Homo sapiens: one gene and its partners. The protein of the gene in region 2 interacts with the protein of the main gene of each other region in a pairwise test. Each region holds a gene or a part of one and is shown on either strand. Other genes may lie near its edges.

Region 1 (7,033 bases), on a different chromosome or scaffold from region 2:
AGAGTGTGTTCTGAGGATAATTAATAGTTTCAGGGAAAGAATACTAAAAATGAATTCCCTATAATGGGATCCAGTATTTCATAGTAAATATTGTGTGGGTGTGTATGTGGGAGGAAATCTGGAAGCTTTATTTCTAAAGTAAAACTTTAATATTATAAAAATAAGTATTTTATAATTGCACCTGTGCATTAATTATTTACATAAACAAAAATGGAATCAGACGTTGATTGGTTTTTGACAGCATAATTTCCCCCAATAAATAGTATAATAAAATTATAGATGTGCTCATTTCATGTTTGACTTTCACTGTGCCATTATAATAGAGGCCATTTTTAAAAGATTAATAATGACCTCAGTTTTTCTTAAAGCCGCTCAGATGACAAATTATTCTCTTTGTATCACGTATTATGCCATCATCCTGGCCACTTGTTAGTTGGTCTGACCCTTATTTGTTCACAGACTCACTTGTAACTCAGGCAATTCTCCAGTTTCTTTCATTGAGTTGAGCTTCTGTATAGTTGGCAAGTTTTCCAGTTCATCTTTGCATTGGGTCTGCAGTGTGCTATCTGAAGTATCAGACGGTCAGTAAGAGAAACCAGCTGGCAGTGAGCAGAAAGATAGGTGTAAAGCAGACAGGGTCTTGAGTGGGAACTCTGTTTATGAAGGGTCAGTTCTTTAGAAATCATTTTCATGTTTAATCACTTTTGCTTTGCTGCTAAGCTTTGTGACTGATCATGAGACCTGATAACACAGATAGTGAGGACTCCACCCCATAATATATTTCATCATCATTCCAGCAACTGTCTTTAATAGGTTCTTTTAAGTATATTTGAACATTAAACAAGTTAAAATCAAATTATATATTGATATTCTTGAAGGCCCTGAGCAAAACATCGATAAGAAATTAGGTGAGTTAGGAGAGTATCATAGCCTCGTGTCTGCACTAGAAACCAGCCAGCAGGAATTTTGCATATACCTGTCAATTAATGGCAAGATTAAATATTAGTGAACCATTTCTGTGATGGACTTCATTTGATTTTAAATATTGCTCTGGAGAATGTTAAACTGAAACCGTTTCCAGATGACTATGAAGATTAGTGCTCAAAGCATCATTTACATGATGCCCTTCCCTTATAGTGATCATTTCATTCACTCTATTTCCTAAAGGCTGCCCTTGGAGCTGGCTTCTCTGACAAGACTCCTGCTCACACTGTCACCATGGCTTGTATCTCTGCCAACCAAGCCATGACCACAGGTATGTTTAAATGGAAACAGACAGTACATGTTAATTATTCTCCTTTGTCTTTTACTTGATTATAAAAATGTACTTTTTTTTTTTTTTTTTTTTTTAACACAGAACCTCACTCTGTCACTCAGGCTGGAGTGCAGTGGTACCATCATAGCTCACTGCAGGCTCAAACTCTTGAGCTCAAGAGATCATCCTGCCTTAGGATCCCAAGTAGCTGGGTCTACAGGTGCTCCACCACACCCAGCTAATTTTTAAATTTTTTGTGGAGACGGGATCTCGCCATGTTGCCCAGGCTGGTCTTAAACCTCTGGCCTCAAGTGATCCTTCTACCTCAGCCTCCAAAGTGCTGGGATTACAGGCGTGAGCCACCATGCTCATCCCAAAAAGTACTCTTAACAGAAGTAAAAGATTAGCACAGATCTCTATACTTGTGTTTTTTAAAAAGTAAGGTCAGGTTTAAAATTTGGGGGTTCTAACCGTAGTTAACCTCTTTTTTTGCTCTCCATACCTGAGGAACATTACCATTGGCGTGGTTCCTCTGTGAATAATGTGGCTGGCTGCAGCAGGGATTATCAACTGGAGGAGTGTATCTCTAGGAAGGTACTTCAGCATCTGAGGCATGAGTAAATAGTTTACAACCTGCCAGGCTTTCAACCTAGGTGCTTCAGATATGATATTTTCCCACAAAGATATGGTCTTCCTTCCTTCACCACTACCATACTTGTAAATCATTGCTTTAGATGGCACAGCTCTTTCCTTCACTTTCTCCTTACATCCTTGTCATTTTTATAAATCACTGAAAACCCCACTAACAAACTTTAGCAAAACTGTGGGATATTTTGTAGCATCAGCTCTTAGTGTGAGGAGGCAAGGAAGCCTGAAAGATTTAGTAATCATGTGCTCATCTAGTAACATCAAGGCCCAGGTGGGCACCCCACCTCATGTGTGGCGGGGAATGATGCCCGTGACTGGGGGCGTTCGCCACTCTAGGCAGCATGTGACCAACTCCTGGTTAGAGAAACAGAATACTGGCCAGTGGCCATAAGGAGAGAGGGGGCCTGCCTTACGTTTCAACAGCTGTAATTTCTCTGCTTTGCAGCAGAAGTTAACATTCTCTTTATAGGATAAAAAATCTTTATTAAAACTAAAGCTGGGAGCATATAAATATGCAAGATGTTCTGGTTTGGAATATGATTTGTTCAAGAGTTGGTCCAATGGATATTCCTAGAAGTTGACGTCCATATGGCAGGAATGAAACTTGTTTTTCTCTAACGTGTTGAATGTGTTTTTAGTCATTTAAGAAAATTACCTTAATTCTTCTGAAAAGTTGAAAACTTTAATTACAGATGTTGTACAAAGCTGATAACTGTCATTCAGCTTTTTAATCAAGAAGCTTAAATTGGAATGGTATGTTATTTTCTGTAAAAGATATTCATGAAGTATAACCTGTGCCCTGTAGGTGTTGGCTTGATTGCTTCTGGCCAGTGTGATGTGATCGTGGCAGGTGGTGTTGAGTTGATGTCCGATGTCCCTATTCGTCACTCAAGGAAAATGAGAAAACTGATGCTTGATCTCAATAAGGCCAAATCTATGGGCCAGCGACTGTCTTTAATCTCTAAATTCCGATTTAATTTCCTAGCACCTGAGGTAAGGCTTGTGTTTGCAGGGCATCCCACTGCAGAGATTTAGAATTAGGTATGGCAGTGTGGACTCTGCTATGCTGTAATAGGTGTAGATTCTGTAGTTACAGGAAAGGGTTAATTACTTGCTCAAGATGGAAAAAAAAGATAGTGGTTAGAAAACTTTAATTTGTGAGCCCTCTTTAGAGATCCTCTTTAGAGATCCTCTGCTTGTCTTGGACTTGATTGATTAATGGTAGACAAATAGATTTTAACTTTTCCAAATAACACAGAACAATCCTAGGTGTTAGCATAACACCGGTTAACAGTGTACCTGCTCCTTGGATATCTCCTTTCCCAGCTCCCTGCGGTTTCTGAGTTCTCCACCAGTGAGACCATGGGCCACTCTGCAGACCGACTGGCCGCTGCCTTTGCTGTTTCTCGGCTGGAACAGGATGAATATGCACTGCGCTCTCACAGTCTAGCCAAGAAGGCACAGGATGAAGGACTCCTTTCTGATGTGGTACCCTTCAAAGTACCAGGTGAAATGAAATGCTTCATGACACTTATTAGGGAGTTCTGAATTGCTCCTAAAACTCAAAAACATCCCGAGTGATTTTTCCATAAGTATGTTGGTTCTGTTTCCAAAGTATTCAGCCTTTATTCTTAAATATGGATGCAAATTTTGATTTATGTTGTAACAATAGGTTAACATTTTTTAATGTTTCTATAAGAGTGTCCTTTTAAGATCTGAGCACTAATCTCAGCACTTTGGGAGGCTGAGGCAGGAGGATCGCTTGAGGCCAGGAGTTCAAGACCAGCCTGGTCAACAGCGTGAGACTTCATCTCTAATTAAAAAAAAAAAAAAGAAAAACAGAGTCTCCTTTTAGATCTTGCTGATATATTTTAGTTCTTACATACATGCCTGTTTTTAAAATTCCTGAATCGTCTGACTTCTGTATAGAATAGCCAACTGTGAATGAATGTCTTAAGAAAATAGGGTGTCCTATTTTTAGTAAAGCATTTAGATGATTTCCCAATTGTCTTTTAAGACTTTAGTTTAAAATTTGATAATATGATAATTATAAAACACTTTCCTTCTAGTGAATAGGTAAGGTTTATATTTCATTTGTTTTTGTAATTTTTAAAGCATATTTCTGTGGAGAAGATATATAAGGCTTGTGGTTCCATAGAGTTAAAAAAATTCATTTTTTTAATAGGAAAAGATACAGTTACCAAAGATAATGGCATCCGTCCTTCCTCACTGGAGCAGATGGCCAAACTAAAACCTGCATTCATCAAGCCCTACGGCACAGTGACAGCTGCAAATTCTTCTTTCTTGGTAACTGTCAATGTTATTTGTATTTAGTAGTGACTTTTCTATTTCTGTACTCTCTGTAGAAAAGCCTAATATAACTTTTTGTGTGTGTTATGAATAGAGGGTTAAAAATATAGTTATTCATTTTAATGTGAAAGTGGAGTCATTAAAAAAAAAATAGAATCACGGTTTTAAGGCCCGAGAAGTCACCTAATCCAGCCACCATTCTGCCACAAAAGCTCTTCCTTTCAGGCACTTAACCAGTCAAAAACTTCTATTGCTTATGGTGGGCCCTGGAAATGAAAAGAATAGACAATTGCAATATAGTGAGATGCTGTGATGGCTGTAAGGCTTAGGTCGAACCCCTGACCCAGATGGGGGGACAGTCAGAGAGTCTTCTTGGAAGAGGTAACACTTGAGCAGCAAATCTTGAAGGAAGAGTAAAAGCCAACTCAGGAAGGATTTTAAAAGGCATTTCAGGCCGGGTGCGGTGGCTCACGCCTGTAATCCCAGCACTTTGGGAGGTTGAGGCAGGCAGATCACCTGAGGTCAGGAGTTCGAGACCAGCCTGAGCAACATGGAGAAACCCCGTCTCTACTAAAAATACAAAATTAGCCAGATGTGGTGGCACATGCCTGTTAATCCCGGCTACTCGGGAGGCTGAGGCAAGAGAATTGCTTGAACCCTGGAGGCGTGGAGGTTGCGGTGAGCCAAGATCGCACCATTGCACTCCAGCCTGCACAAGAGCGAAACTCCCATCTCAAAAAAAAAAAAAAAAAAAAAAAAAAAAGGCATTTTGGACAAAGGGAATAGCAAATGCAAAATCAAGGAAGTATGAGAGCAAGGGGTTCTTTGGGGAAAAGTTAGGTTGGAGCATAAGGTATGAACTGGGAAGTCGCAGAAGACAAGGAAAAGCAGGCAGAAAGAGTAACAGGATACCTCTTCCAGCCCTGATTGTTAGAAAACTGCTTTACACTGACCCCAATATTATTTTCCTGTAAGCATCATGGAACAAATCTACCACTGTTTGTTTTGTGTTTTTTTTTTAACTTATCAACATGTAGCTTCATATCCTTCCATGCTTTTCTGACTCCTCAATTAAACATCTTTATTGATTCTGCTGCTGCTTGTAAGATGTGATTTCTCTTCTCTTACCACCTTGGGTATAGTCTTCTGGATATAGGCCATCTGGTCAGAGTTTCTCTTACAATGTAACTCTCCTACCTGGCCATAAAGTCTTGAAAACATACGCAGATGTTTGACATATTTGCCCATGGTAAATGACTAATTAATGCCTGCTCTTGATAGGCTAGGGGAGTGGAATCTGGAGTAGTTCCAACAGGATGGAACACCACCCTGTTAAGCCCAGGTGGTGAAGAGCTGGTTAGGTTGGTCATTTGCAAAACCGAATTGGATGATAGAGCCATGTGGCATGGACTACACTTGCCAGATCTGAATCCTTTTGATTATTTCCAGGGTATGCTAAAGGTCCAGGTTTATTTAGTGAGAATCAGAGACACAAATCATCAGAGGTGACACATCACAATACATGGATTTTGGGGACTGCATTAGTGCCCCACATTCATTGCAATTTTGCACAATGGCACATTGAACCTGTTATTAATGTAATGTCTGTAAACCATTTATTCCATATGGTCACCTATGTCTCCAGACTTTATGGACACCCTATTGGTGGCTACACAGTCTCTTCAGGGTTGCCGAGTTATAAAAATACGACAGAATGTGGTAGAACTTATTTTGATTTTACAAATTATGAAGAATAGTTTCCTTTTCTTTGGAATTCTGAAGTTTTTGGGGGAGCTTTTCTTCTTTGAAGTATGGTAAAGGACGTTTTTTCAGTAGTACTTCTTTGTCCTCCAGCTTCTCGGTTGTCATTTGGGAAGAAATGTATGGGGTGTATCCAAAGAGGGAAGATTGTGGTTCTAATGTCCTCAGCTGGTTCTCCCATTGGTTTGCTCGTTACAGAATATATAAGTAGAATAAAATGACCTGTAAGCCACGGGCAGAAAGCAGCTGAGAGCCCAGAAAATGTAAAAATAAATAAATAAGAGATATGTTTATTTTGGTTCATATTTTGTGCCACAAGCTAAAAACTTTGGCTTAAATAAGTGTTTAGTGTTTATTATGAGCAGTTCTTTCTTTTTTTTTTTTTTTTTTTTTGAGACAGAGTCTGGCTTTGTCACCCAGGCTGGAATGCAGTGGCACGATCTCAGCTCACTGCAACCTCCGCCTCCCAGGTTCAAGCAATTCTCCTGCCTCAGCCTCAGCCTCCCAAGTAGCTGGGACTACAGGTGTGTGCCACCACACCTGGCTAAGTTTTTCTATTTTTAGTAGAGATGGGGTTTCACCGCGTTAGCCAGGATGGTCTCAATCACCTGCCTCATGATCTGCCCGCCTCAGCCTCCCAAAGTGCTGGGATTACAGGCATACAGGCATGAGCCACCACGCTTGGCCATGAGCATTTATTTCTAAAGTTACCTCTTCTGTTGATTCATTTTGATTATTATGATACTTTTGAACAGCCTTCTCTACCCTCATCCTCCAAAAATGAGTCAGCGTGTGTATGTTTGAATTATGATTTAATGATGGATACAGTGAAGTAAGTGTTGTTATATAGAATCACTGTATAAGTCTAATGAGTTAATAGATTCAGGTACAGATATATAAGATGGCTGGAGAAAGACCTCCAGACAGGCTGAAGAATTTTAACATTGTGCTGGTTAACATTTCAGACTGATGGTGCATCTGCAATGTTAATCATGGCGGAGGAAAAGGCTCTGGCCATGGGTTATAAGCCGAAGGCATATTTGAGGTAAAGTAAATGTT
Region 2 (7,033 bases):
CATTTAGGTAAATATTTTTCTCCTCTACATAGAGTGTGAAAACTCCCTGAATGTAGTCTATGAACGTCCCACTTTGTAAGCTCTACTGTGCTGAAAATAGTCTTTAAACATATATGTTCAAACATAGTTGTTGACCAAATGACTGACTAGAGTAATCAATATTTACTAGCTTCAGAACTGTAAAGCTTCTATAAAGGACTATATACACAATCTATTTGAATCTTATTGACTATCATAAAATGAAAGTGATTGATGTGGAATAATCTGACTTGCTTCATAAACTAAATCAGTGTTTGTCCAACTATTCTCTACAGCACCTTTGGGCTTCCACAGAGGTGGTGCAGGAATCTCTCTCCTTAGCAGTGGGAAATGGGAAGTAAATAGAGTTTTCTCCTCCCCACTTTACCTTCACCCAACACTGCTCCATTTTGTATATTGGCCTTTCCTATAAGACTTTACTCAGAGAAAGTTTTCACTATTTAGGAAAAGTTTTGAGGTCACTTGGGGTTCCACCACTGGAACACTCTGATTTTATATTTGTTTCACATGAAATCCTCTTTACCTGATAACTAGGTAAATAAGCTGTTGTGGTTAAGCTGAATTTACGGTAGCACAAAGTACGTTTCAGATAATTTTATATCAGGAGCTACTCCAACACTTCACTTTATAGGAGACATATCATTTTTTTAATAGCCATTTAGCTCACTGCTTGATGTGACCTTACTGACCTGGGAACTAGTTAGCTGGTGCATCTTACAGATATTACTATATTTGTGAATATTCTTCATAGATTTAAAAGATCCCTGAGAAGCAGTTATACAGCTTTCTACTCCTTAAAAGACAATGACAAAACTTTCTATCGCCTAAGCTTATGGTAGCCTGTCCTCTTAACCACAGAGTACCCTGATCTGCAATAAGTCTAAAATGTATCTTCACTGAAATCTGTCTTAAACTCCCAGTTAGTCATACCCTTCTGAGTTCATTATTTAGGAAAAAAATACCTGTTCAAGTCACGATGTATAATTGGCTGTGTCAGGTTGTGAAGGTACTCCATGCCTTTGGCAACATCTACTGCAATAATTAATTTAGACTGCAAATCAAGAATCCTAGAATTTAAAAATAGATTTAACAGAGATGAAATGGTCAAAACGAATATCAAAAAAGCAAATGATGTGTAAGAGTTGTTATTTTATATCATCTTAACCATTTTTTGTTTCTTGAAGGTTAAGCTAGAAATTCAACAAATCTGAATAGCTTTCCTACATCAGAAAATGCTTAATTATGAATCAATTAAGATATACAGCATCTCTTGTTTAAGATATTATACTTGGTTTTATAATTTATTTATAATACTATACTTAATTTCTTTGTAATATTGTAAAATGAAATCTATTTTAATCACTGTATGAAACTACATTCTAATTACTATATGCATAAACTCAGAAAGTGAATTCACATTGGATTTGTTCAAGATCACTTTTTTAAAAGTTTATTTTATTCTGAGCTTACATATATCTTCTTTATCAGTATTTCAAATTTAGCCTAATTATTTTAAGCTCCAGTTTCCAATTTAAATTCCTTAAATTTGTTATCTTCAACTGAATTTCTGCTAAGAAAGCATAAAGTATTTCTATTCATTGAAACACAGTTATTAGGCATAAATTATTAGCGATATTAAAAATGACACACTTGCTAGCAGCACTCAGATTTCAAAAGGTGAAGGCTCATCCAATGGGAAACCCTCTGAAGTATTGCAAGAGTAGTTTCTACGGAATGTCCAAGGATAAATCAGAACAAAAGACCCATACCTCTTCTGCTCATGAAGGAGGGAGAACAGAGAACCCCCTGATATGTATTGAGTGACAATGGCAAACTGGCTGGGATCATTCAAGCAAGCACCCACAAACTGAATTACGCAGGGATGATTGAGCTGGCAGAGAATGGACACCTCTCGGCAAAACATATCCACATCTGACTTGGAGCAGTAGGTATTGGCTCGATAACTGGAAATGGCAGCAACAGAAAATCTTCAGTAAACAGATGGATCCAAACAAGGGGCTTGCCATGCACATGCTTCTCAAAGGTCACAATTCCACCTGGATGTTAAATTTTTTCATTTGCTTGCTTACCGTTTTATAGCCACTATTTTATTTCTGCATCGTCCTTTATATACTTTCCCAAAAGAACCTACAATTGTTTAAAATAAATAAATAAACACATATTAACTTAAGCTCATTCAACTAAACCGGACCTTTATTTATTTATTTATTTTAGGTTACCTGAGCCAATAATCTCATGGAACTCAATTTCTGAGAGCTGAAGATGGAAATGTGAAGGCAATCCAGCTCTTAGGAGGAGAATATCTGCCTTCTCTGCAAAGAGAAATTGTCATTTTATTTTTTAAGGTAAAAACCACACACATGGATGTGTATACATGTGCATATATATATTTAACTAAAAACATAATTTCCTAATAACATTTAATTTTTAATTTTCCAACTGTAATTGACTACTTAAAGATGCTAAAACCTTAACCCAAATGATCCCTACCCCCCTGCATTAAAATCATGTTAGTTCTATGTCTTGATTACTCACTCCTTGTTACCAGGGCTAAGGGTCTATTCCTGATCTGGTTACCAGGGCTAAGGGTCTATTCCTGATCTGGTTACCAGCGCTAAGGGTCTATTCCTGATCTACTCACTCCTTGTTAGCAGGGCTGAAGGTCTATTCCTGATCTATTCCTGCATGACATGGCAACCCTGGAGTCCAGTCCGTATCACATTATGATAAAGGTTCTGATCTGGTAACTCTCTTCAGTCTATTCCAATAGGCTTAGCCAAATATCCATAAACTAACCTCAAAGGGATGCCAATTAAATGACAGGAAATAAGCGTATGAATCATTCTAAGGAAACACTCATTCTACATTCTAAGGAAACTATTTGGAATTTAAATTCCAAATAGTTAAATATATATTTACATTTGAATCAAAGTTTTTACTTTCCTGGTCCAATGTTATTCATTTCTGTGTGAAGCATACATTCAAAAATGGTCCCAAAGTATTACTTATTGGGGATATTTTGAAAAATAATATATATTTTTTCACATATGTTTTCTAGTCCCAATTCTCCTTAAAGAAATATTAATATTTATAATTCATTTTTATAAAAAACAGAAACATCTAAACAGTCCAGTGAGAATTTGATTTTTCTTTAATAGTTATGTGAAATTTTCACTGTTATTATATCTTTATGCACTGAAAGGAGATAAAGGGTAAGGTTAATTATGAAAAGAACGGTCTGTCAATAATATTTGTTGTGCTTGTAAAATAGTCATCATTTGTAATATGTAAAACAAAATTGAAAATTACATTTGAAGCAATAGTTATCCTTAGTAATTAAATATAACAATTGTCCCAGATTATAGGTACCTTTTGTCATGCTTTTAATCTTCCCCAAGGGTGATGGAACAGACACATAGGAGCCATCTAGAAATTAAATTATATAATAGAGTTGAAAGTAGCGATCATTTTTTTCTACATAAAAGTTCAACATTATAAAAATAAGCAGGTGACGAAACGAAGTAAAACTATCGCTTCAGGCCCAAATCTTTCTCTGGATACTGAAATTGTACTGCAAGTGTTTATTTAGAAAGTGCATAAAAAGATTTTTTAGAAAATCCAAGTTGTAGCAGACTCTAGCAGATTTAATTTGTCTCTGGATATGAGTATTCAGTAATAGATTACTGAAATGGAAAATGACTGCTCTCAGCTTATCCAGGCCTTCCTAGTCATGCACAAGCCTCATAAACATCCAGTCTGGGAAATGTTAAACTTGGAGGAGCTGCAGATTGGTGAGTTAGAAAATAGCTGAAATGGAGGCTTCTTTATGTTCAGCCTCTCCCAGACATAAGGTTACTTAAAATAAATCTAATCTGACATAGGCTATGCCCTCCTCCCTAACCCCTGAAAGAATGATAGTAACAGAAACACAGGTTTACCTTTAGGCACAATATATTATACAATAATGAAAACTGAATAAGAAAAGGGGTACCTCCTCCAGGCTGAGAATATTCATTACAGGGCAATTCATCTTGTGGTCTCTTATAATGCTTCAGGAGTGTGACAATGGCATCATGCCCTTTATGAAAAGATACAAAGAACAAAGAGTCCTAAATTTTGTTTAAGTTATTCAGTCTACTCTCAAATCCAAAAATTATTGGAAGTAGCTTACAACATAGGACAAATCATAAGAGGTAATGTATTGCAATAGAAATTTAGTTCATTCATTCTTTGGTTCAAAATGATTTCTTAAGACTACCATATGCGAAGCACTATGTCAGGCACTCTACTGGGAATGGGTACTGGTGATGCAGTGAACAAAGTGACTATGGTCTTACCCTTAAGAAGCTTACAATGTAGTTGAACAAATAATCAGAAAAATGATGAGGATTTCTAAATAAGGCAATACTAAGTACTATGGGAATATATAATAAGGGCACTATTAAAAGGGCAAAAAGTACATACAGTAATCAGGAAAGAGAGATGTATTTGCTGTGATTGAGCGTACATTTGATTCAGTATTGTAGTATTATGCAGCACTAAGATAATTTACATAGGTTTTTAGAGACAGCTGGCTGCCTGCCAATATTTGTACTCCTCTTTCACAGGGTGATTTTGTCACTGGGAATGGCTGCCCACCCAGTGACATTTTCCTATGTACCTTGCATCCAACTGTGGCCTTGCGACATATTTTCATGAAGGGAATATGAGCAAAAGTGAAGTAACTTCCAGGTCTGTGCCTTAAGAAACAGGTGAGCCTTCTCTACTCTTCCCATTTGCTGGCTAGATGCAGAAGGCTCTGAAGCTCTGAGGGTTGGAAGAAAGCCATCCACTGACCAGAAATGCCCACCCTGAAGTGCTATATGAGAAATACTTTTCTATTATAACACCACCAACAATCTAGTGTTTACTAGTTACACTAGGGGCTTATGATTGTGAAGGATAAAAAATGCCAAATGATCCTCTGAGTAATGCAATGTTTTTCAATAAAATTAAACTTCAATACTATTTTAATGCGTTCACTATAAAAATAATCTATGAAGCTAATTTACAAAAGAGAAAAACAGCCAACCTTAAAGATGTTGCCATAGGATTTGTGAAATACAACAGAGCTTATTGTAAAACTGGTAAATTTAAGGAATTGAAAAAGCATAAATACTTATCCATCACAAAGGATCTGTAGTTAACATGGGTTAAGCATACATCTAGCTTATGTAGAGAGTATATGCTGAGATTTGCTTGCCTTTCAAATCTTCCCTTCCGCAAAAACTTTAAATGAACAGTGCATTCAAGATCATGAGGTGGAAAAATCATGGTATTTACAAACACGAAAAGCTTTTCCAAAGGTAACAAGGCTAAGATTCTTCGAGGAAAAAAAAAAAAAGCATTGTGATTACAATTGCTAAAACTGGTAGCAAAACTTAAATCTACATAGTTAAAAACTAGTGTCTATTTTCTTATCATCTCCAGCTTTCTATTCATGACTGGTGGATCTCTAATTTTCTCAAATCATAGGAATAAGTTATAATGAAATAACGTGGGGGGCAGTCCCATTGGCATTCTTTCTTTGGACTGCAGCGAGCTCACGATCAGGGAAACCTTAAGACTAATTTAAGGACATTAGCCAACAAACTAATTTCTAGGGGAAGCACCTAATAGGCAGAGAGAATAGATAATGTAGTAGTCCCAAGATGGGAGCAAACATAACATGTTTAGAGAATGAAAAAAGGCCAGTGTGGCTACACAAGCAAGGATGAGAGTGGTATCAGATTTGGTTGGAGAGGTAGGCAAGTGTACTTCATGTGGAGTAGTGCTTCTCAAATTTTTTTACTATGTATAAGAATCACTTGAAGTGCAAGTTCAAACAGATTCCCAAGCCCTGTCCCAATAGATCACAATTGAAAAAGTCTGTAGTAGGGGCTGAGTGTTGTGTTTCTAACAAGGTCCCAGGTGATGCTCATCAGCAATCTGCACTTTGACTGCGACTGATGTAGAGCTTTACAGGTGAGGATAAGGAGATGAGATTTTCGTGTAGGGTAGGCGAGATGGGGAGCCCCTGAAGCATTTTAATTAGTTAAAGGATATGATCTGTTTTACTTTTTAAAAAGATCGTCATCTACAGGTTAGAAACGATAATCCACCCTTGTAAGATTGTTGTAAAGATTAACTAAGATGATGTATGTAATATGCCTTACAGTTCTAACACATCAGTGTGCATTTTGGGTCTTGTCACTGCTTTTACACTTTACTTTTTGCCCCAAGAATTGTAGGTGAACTTGGAAACTCCTTTTTGGAATTTCAGACGAATCTTCTAAATACCAGTGTATTCATTTTCTATTGCTGCTATTGCTAGTTATGACAAACATAGTGACTTGAGCAATACAAATTTATTATCTTATAATTCTGGAGGTCAAAAGTTCAACATGGTTTTCTCTGAGCTGAAATCAAGGTGTCAGCAGGACTGCATTTCTTTCTAGAGGCCTTAGGAGATAATTGGTTTCCTTGACTTTTCCAAGTTTTATAGGCCACCCACATTCCTTGGCTTGTAGCCCCCTTCCTATTGCTTCAAAGCCAGCAATGGTTGGCTTAGTCCTCATATCATATTGCTCTGACCTCTGCTTCTGCCCCCCTTTTCCATATTACAATGAGCCCACTGGGATAATCCAGGATAATCTATCTCTTAAAGTCAGCTAAATAACAACCTTGATTCTTCCCCATGTAAGGCAGCCTACTTACAGTTCCAACAAACAGGACCTGAACATCTTTGGGGGTGGCGGGGGGCATTACTCTACCTCCTTGATTCTTCCCCATGTAAGGCAGCCTGCTTACAGTTCCAGTGAACAGGAACTGAACATCTTTGAGGGGGCATTACTCTACCTACCACATCCAGTTTCATGAATATTTCAGTGTGCTTGTGCCTTGCTTGTGTGTTGGTGCTGCCTGCTGTTGAGCATTTTCTTTTCTAGCTTTGGTG
Region 3 (5,357 bases), about 43 Mb from region 2:
ACAGCTAGAAAACAGTCTGCAGTGTGACTTAACTTGTGTATTGCATTCCAGCAGACCACTGAACCAGACAGCGAAGCCAAGATCATTGTTCTACTTTGTATTTACTACTGTGTGAATCAGTTGATTCTACTTCAGGTCCTTGCTTAAATTCCTGTCACTAAATGGAAATGTGTTTGGTTTTAAACTTACTGAGTTATTTTTCCTATAATCCTTCTTCCTGGGTAACTTACAGACTTAAAGTCACTGAGCCTGCATTAGCTGACAAAAACATTTAATATGTTACCTTAGACCTTGGAGAGATGCCCAGCAGAGGTACAGAGCCAAAGGCACTAGCAGATCACTGCCTTCTTGGGAGATCACTTATAAGCCCTCCCTTTTGTAATGATCAGATGCCCTCTTCCCTCAGAGTTGATTAGAGAAGCAGTAAGAATTTGTAGTCATAAGTACTAGCCTGGTGCACAGGTCAGCAGTCCTCTTGGCCAGTGGTCATTTTCTCCCACCACCATGGTACAAGCCTGGGTTCTGTGCCCTGAACCTGAATTCTGGAAAGGGAGAGACTACAGCATTTCACAGAGAACAGCCAGACCCAAGAGCTTTCAGTGTAGGATGGGCCTGAAGTGACAGTTCAATAGCCAAACCTGGGGAAGCCCCATCACTGACTGAACTAGGTCATTTGACCATGGAGGGGGGGCAGTGTAAAGGCAACGTGTAGGTACAGCTCTTTTATTATTAAATGTGTAAGGTGATCAGCTGATTAACAGGCTCCGAGACTGTCCATTTCAGTCTCCCATCCAGTGCTTCTTCCTCAGTAACCTTCAGGCCGTTATTTCTGCCCACTCTCTGACACACAGGATAAACCAAGACTCCCAGAGTTATGTTACCAAAGGCAAAAAGGCAACTGGGTGGCCTTGGCTCTGCTTTATTGACCTCAGAGCACCCTATGAGTGCAGTTAAAAAAAAAAAAAAAAAACCACATACACCATGGGAACTGGAACTGGATCCCGGTCAGTGGCACCTGACCCCAGAAGAATTCGTGGATTTGTACAAAATGCAGAGGAAGAAATGAGGCAATGTGGTGCTGAGTCGAGGGGTAGCCGATTGGCAGAGTAGTAGTCAGCAACAGTGCAGTCAGGTCATGCCTCTTTCTCATAAGTGCGAGTGCAAACTGCAGTGCCGTGGGTGAGTGTCTGGAAGGAAAGACAGAGTGAGATGGGGGGTGGAGCCAGGAACACCATTGCGAGCATTCTACCCTCCCTTCCTCCTGATAATTGTCACTTGAGTACCTACTATGTGCCGGCTATATGTATGTATGTGTGTGTGTGTGTGTGTGTGTGTGTGTGTGTGTGTATACATACATAATTTTTTTTTTCTGATATGCACAGCAAATCCTTAAGATAGGCATTGTAATTCTTATTTTAGAGATTTGGAAAAAACGAGCCTTTAGAGAGGAAGTAATTTGGTCAAGATCCTGAGTGTTTTTCCTTCCCTTATACCATTTGGCTTCCTTCATCCTTAGTGTCTAAGATGGTGCCTGGCATATAGTTGACAAATAGGAAAAATATCCAGAGACTCAGGAAAGGACTGTGTTTGGCTACTAACTCCAATCCTTCCCTAACTTAGAGTAGTGCCAGGGCCAGAGCCCTGTACCTCCCACTATCCGGTCTGGCATCATAGAGCCAGACCCATGGCCTCACCATAGTTCAGCTGCCACTGAGAATTTGGTCCTGCATATCACATCCCCACCAAAGCTAGGCACCTCATTCCAAACTTCAAGGGGACCCCTGTCCCACATGAGTACAAGAATGCAGTTAACAGGTTATGCTGACCCAAGAAGGTGTGCAGTGAAGATGCCTAGGTGAAAACCTGAGGCCCTGTGGTTAGGCAGAATCCACAGTTGGCTGCTCTCCCTGGGTCTGGGGGGAATTCAGTCAAGGCTAGATTCTCCAAGTGAAGTCCCCAAGCTTGAACAGATCTGCCAGCCTGGCTGTGGTACTTCCTACCCAAGCAGTAGTCAAGTAGTTTCAGTAGGCCAGACATAGAAAGCATGAAAATGGGGTAGGACTAGAATGGGGAAGAAAGGACTGTACTGTCATTCAGTGTCCCCACCAGTCACGAGCCTGTCCCTGCAAGTGACAATGCAGTCCTAGGGAGGAGAGGAAAGGGAATGCTGAGATAGGCAATGGGAGCCCCTCCTAGAGGGCCTGGGATCAGATTTGGCCCTGTTTTCTACTTCTTCCTGAGGTGAGGCAAGGTAGAAACACAGGAAGAGCAAACAAAGGACATGGAGCACCTGCTGTGTTCCTCAATCAGTGATGCTTTGTGCTGTGCATACACTGTCTCTTACAGGCTTCCCAGCAGCCCTACAAGGTTGGTATTATTAATACCCGTTTTACAGTTGCACTTGGAAAAGGTGATTTGCCCACAGTCATGTAGCCTATAAGGTAAGATTTGAGTTCCGGCCTGTGTGAGTCCAAAGCCACTACACAGAAAATTCCCACCTGATACCACCCTGACCCACAACCACTCTCTTGTCCCAGCTTCTACAGCTCTCAGGGGAGGACTTGGCTTTTTAGAACAGGCTTGGCTGAAAGAGCAGTAGTAATAACCAATCAGATATAGCTCCAAAGTTGCCCATCTTACCAGGATGAGTTTTCCATCAATTAGCTCCCGCACAAGTGTGGTCTCTTGCCCGTCCCATTTCTGCAGGTGAACAAGTTTCCCTCCATCCAGTGTCACAATGGACTGTGGAAAGAGGGTAGAGGCCTGAGCTGTGATCTTAGTCAGGAATTGAGGGGCAGGGTGGGGTCTGGACACTGGGCCACAGAGCACACAGCCTTTGACCCAAACTAGTGATGGTGTGAGGACAAGAGCTCAGGCAATCCGCCTCCCAGCTATCCCTGCAAGACATCTAGTTCACCTCCAGCCTCTGCTCCACTACTGCCTTTCTGGGGAAGAGGCCTTCAGATATTAGGCAAGGAGGGAGAGGCAGGCAGTATGGTGGAGCCAGAGAGCCTGGCTCTGAGAAGTACCACAAGCCTTCAAGACAGACACTTATCTGTACTCTAGGTGATTCCCGTAGCCTGGTCCCCTCAGATACAGGTGGGATTTACTAGTCTATCCCTGGGAAAGACTGACTGAGGAGGAGGAGTAGTCCTGAGAATCTTTATCCAGCCTTGTGGTTAGTCCACATAATGTCTAAAAGACCCTTAGTGATAGGAAGTATTGGATAATTAGACTTCCTGCCCTGTATTCCTACACCTTTTCTTGGTCCACATCATGTGACCTCTTTAGCCAACAAGAGGGCAGCAACCACAAAGTCCTGTGACTGGATGCCCTTGAAGTGGTTCCTCAGCTCTGGGTGCTGCCAGCATACATACATCAGCTGGTTCTCATTTGGCAGCTCTTCCAGCTCTCTTTCCTAGGAGTTTGGGGGCCACAAGGCCAGGCTAAGGGATCCTGATGAGCAAGGTGGTTCAGTAGGAGAATCTGAGAAGGTTCTGTGTATTGTTTAGGTGATAAGGGGTATGAGGCCTGTCTCTTAGTGTGCTCTTTTTTATCCTTACCTTACTCCTTGTTCTCATTCCCCTAGTTTTTTTTGCCTACTCAGAGTAGATATTTTTGCCCTAGGCATTCCACAGGGCTATTGTGTTTAATTGGGGTTCTTGCCCCTTGAGAAAGTAGGCAAGTCCAAGGAGGTATGAGCAGGTGGTGGGGCAGCCACCTTTATCCAAGGTAGACTGCCATCTTTGGGCACCATCCCCAGCTCTGCTGCCAGCCACCTGTGTGATCCTGTTCTTTCTGGGGACAGCTATGAGGAAGAGGAAACAGCTGATGGGGCTGAATGATAGTGTCATGATAGAACACTGCTATAGGGACACCCTATAGAGGTCAAAGCCCTTAAGTTCTCTCGCTCCCATGCCTGGCCTGGAAGGCTGAGGCAAGCTGCCAAGACAGCCACTGCAGGGTGATAGAACCCTGGGAGGAGGGGCTAAGGCTTGGTGGGAAGACACTGCAAACACATTCATGACAAGGTGAATGCCCTATCACGGAACATAGCTCTTCCTGCCTGTCAGCTGGCAACACTGGAAATAGTTTGTCAGGGTCATTGGCCATGTCTGGGAGTTAGAAGTTGAAGCGGCATCTGAGTAGGTGCTTCTAGTTCCTGGCTGCCTTTTTTGCTGCTGGAGGTCACAATGACCTCACTCAGTGGAGGGCCCTGACTTCTGGGCATCATTCCTAAAGCACTTCAGGTCACAGCCATGGCCACATAACTCTGCCATCTATGGAAGGGGAAAGAAACCTAGAGCTACTGCATACCTTGCACAGGGTCACCCAGCTGGAGCTGGAGTAGATACTGAGGTCAGAAGAACATCCTGGCTCTGTGCTGCCCATTCCGAGGCAGACAATAGATGAATCCCAAGAAGGGAGGGAAGAAAACAAGAGGACAGAACTGACATGTATTTAGCATCAGTGGCATTCCAGCACTACACAGGCTTTATGAATCTTGTTTCATTTAAATTCCCCATGATAGTCTGCCCCTCAGGGTGCAATACCAGGGAGCCAAGACTACCAGCCTATTCTCTTTTAGAGTCTCAGCACTCTCCATTCCCCACCCCTGTTTCCCTGACTTACCTTGACCTTCCTGTCATCTGCTGTTGTCTCATCGAACTCCACCCCCAACTTAAAGCTGATCTCTGTGTTCTTGAAGGTGCTGTGTGTTTTTAGGGTGAGAATGTCCCCATTCTTTTCGATGATTGTGGTAGGCTTGGTCATGCTGGCCACCTGCCTGGTAGCAAAACCCACACCTGAGGGTAGGGGGAAGGTTATGAGTATATGAGCTGGGGTAGAGAAGCAGTGTACAAGAAACTCAATGAATAACTCTCAGGCCTGGGTATGGGGAAGTGGAGGACTGTATCTTTCAAAGCCTTTGCATGGGAATTTTAAAATTCAGTCTTGCGCTTAGTTCTGTTTGGTGAACACAGATAACTGATCCCATTAGATGAGAGATACTTAAGGAACAGCAGTGCCATAGCAAGTCAGTGGCAGAGCTGGGATTAGAATAAGCTACTATTGGGCCAAGTGTGGTGGCTCACGCCTGTAATCACACTTTGGGAGGCCAAGGCAGGCGGATCACATGAGGCCAGGAGTTTAAGACCAGCCTGGCCAATATGGTGAAACCCGTCTCTACTAAAAATACAAAAAATTAGCCAGATGTGGTGGTATGTGCCTGTAATCCCAGCTACTCAGGAGGCTGAGGCTGAGAATTGCTTGAACCTAGGAGGTGGAGGTTGCAGTGAGTCGAGATTGTGCCACTGCACTCCAGCCTAGCCAACAGAGTGAGATTCCACCTCAAAAAA

What was found. Proteins that work in one complex are often made in the same cells at the same time.
Region 1: the proteins of TNNI3K (region 2) and HADHB interact in a two-hybrid assay, tested with the Homo sapiens proteins (one study listed by BioGRID).
Region 3: the proteins of TNNI3K (region 2) and FABP3 interact in a two-hybrid assay, tested with the Homo sapiens proteins (one study listed by BioGRID).

What each region holds. Positions count from the first base shown.
Region 1 is NC_000002.12:26,275,906-26,282,938, forward strand, and holds part of HADHB (trifunctional enzyme subunit beta, mitochondrial isoform 1 precursor), read left to right. Parts: intron 1-1,167; coding exon 1,168-1,255; intron 1,256-2,708; coding exon 2,709-2,896; intron 2,897-3,229; coding exon 3,230-3,410; intron 3,411-4,088; coding exon 4,089-4,210; intron 4,211-6,939; coding exon 6,940-7,019; intron 7,020-7,033. UniProt on the Homo sapiens protein: Mitochondrial trifunctional enzyme catalyzes the last three of the four reactions of the mitochondrial beta-oxidation pathway.
Region 2 is NC_000001.11:74,364,361-74,371,393, reverse strand, and holds part of TNNI3K (serine/threonine-protein kinase TNNI3K), read right to left. Parts: intron 4,139-7,033; coding exon 4,052-4,138; intron 3,487-4,051; coding exon 3,430-3,486; intron 2,373-3,429; coding exon 2,280-2,372; intron 2,188-2,279; coding exon 2,130-2,187; intron 2,004-2,129; coding exon 1,809-2,003; intron 1,107-1,808; coding exon 1,002-1,106; intron 1-1,001. Other genes in the region: FPGT-TNNI3K fusion protein, read right to left, coding at 1,002-1,106, 1,809-2,003, 2,130-2,187, 2,280-2,372, 3,430-3,486, 4,052-4,138. UniProt on the Homo sapiens protein: May play a role in cardiac physiology.
Region 3 is NC_000001.11:31,364,753-31,370,109, forward strand, and holds the end of FABP3 (fatty acid-binding protein, heart), read right to left. Parts: intron 4,839-5,357; coding exon of another isoform or gene 4,806-4,838; coding exon 4,633-4,805; intron 2,743-4,632; coding exon 2,641-2,742; intron 1,188-2,640; coding exon 1,134-1,187; 3' UTR 501-1,133; downstream 1-500. UniProt on the Homo sapiens protein: FABPs are thought to play a role in the intracellular transport of long-chain fatty acids and their acyl-CoA esters.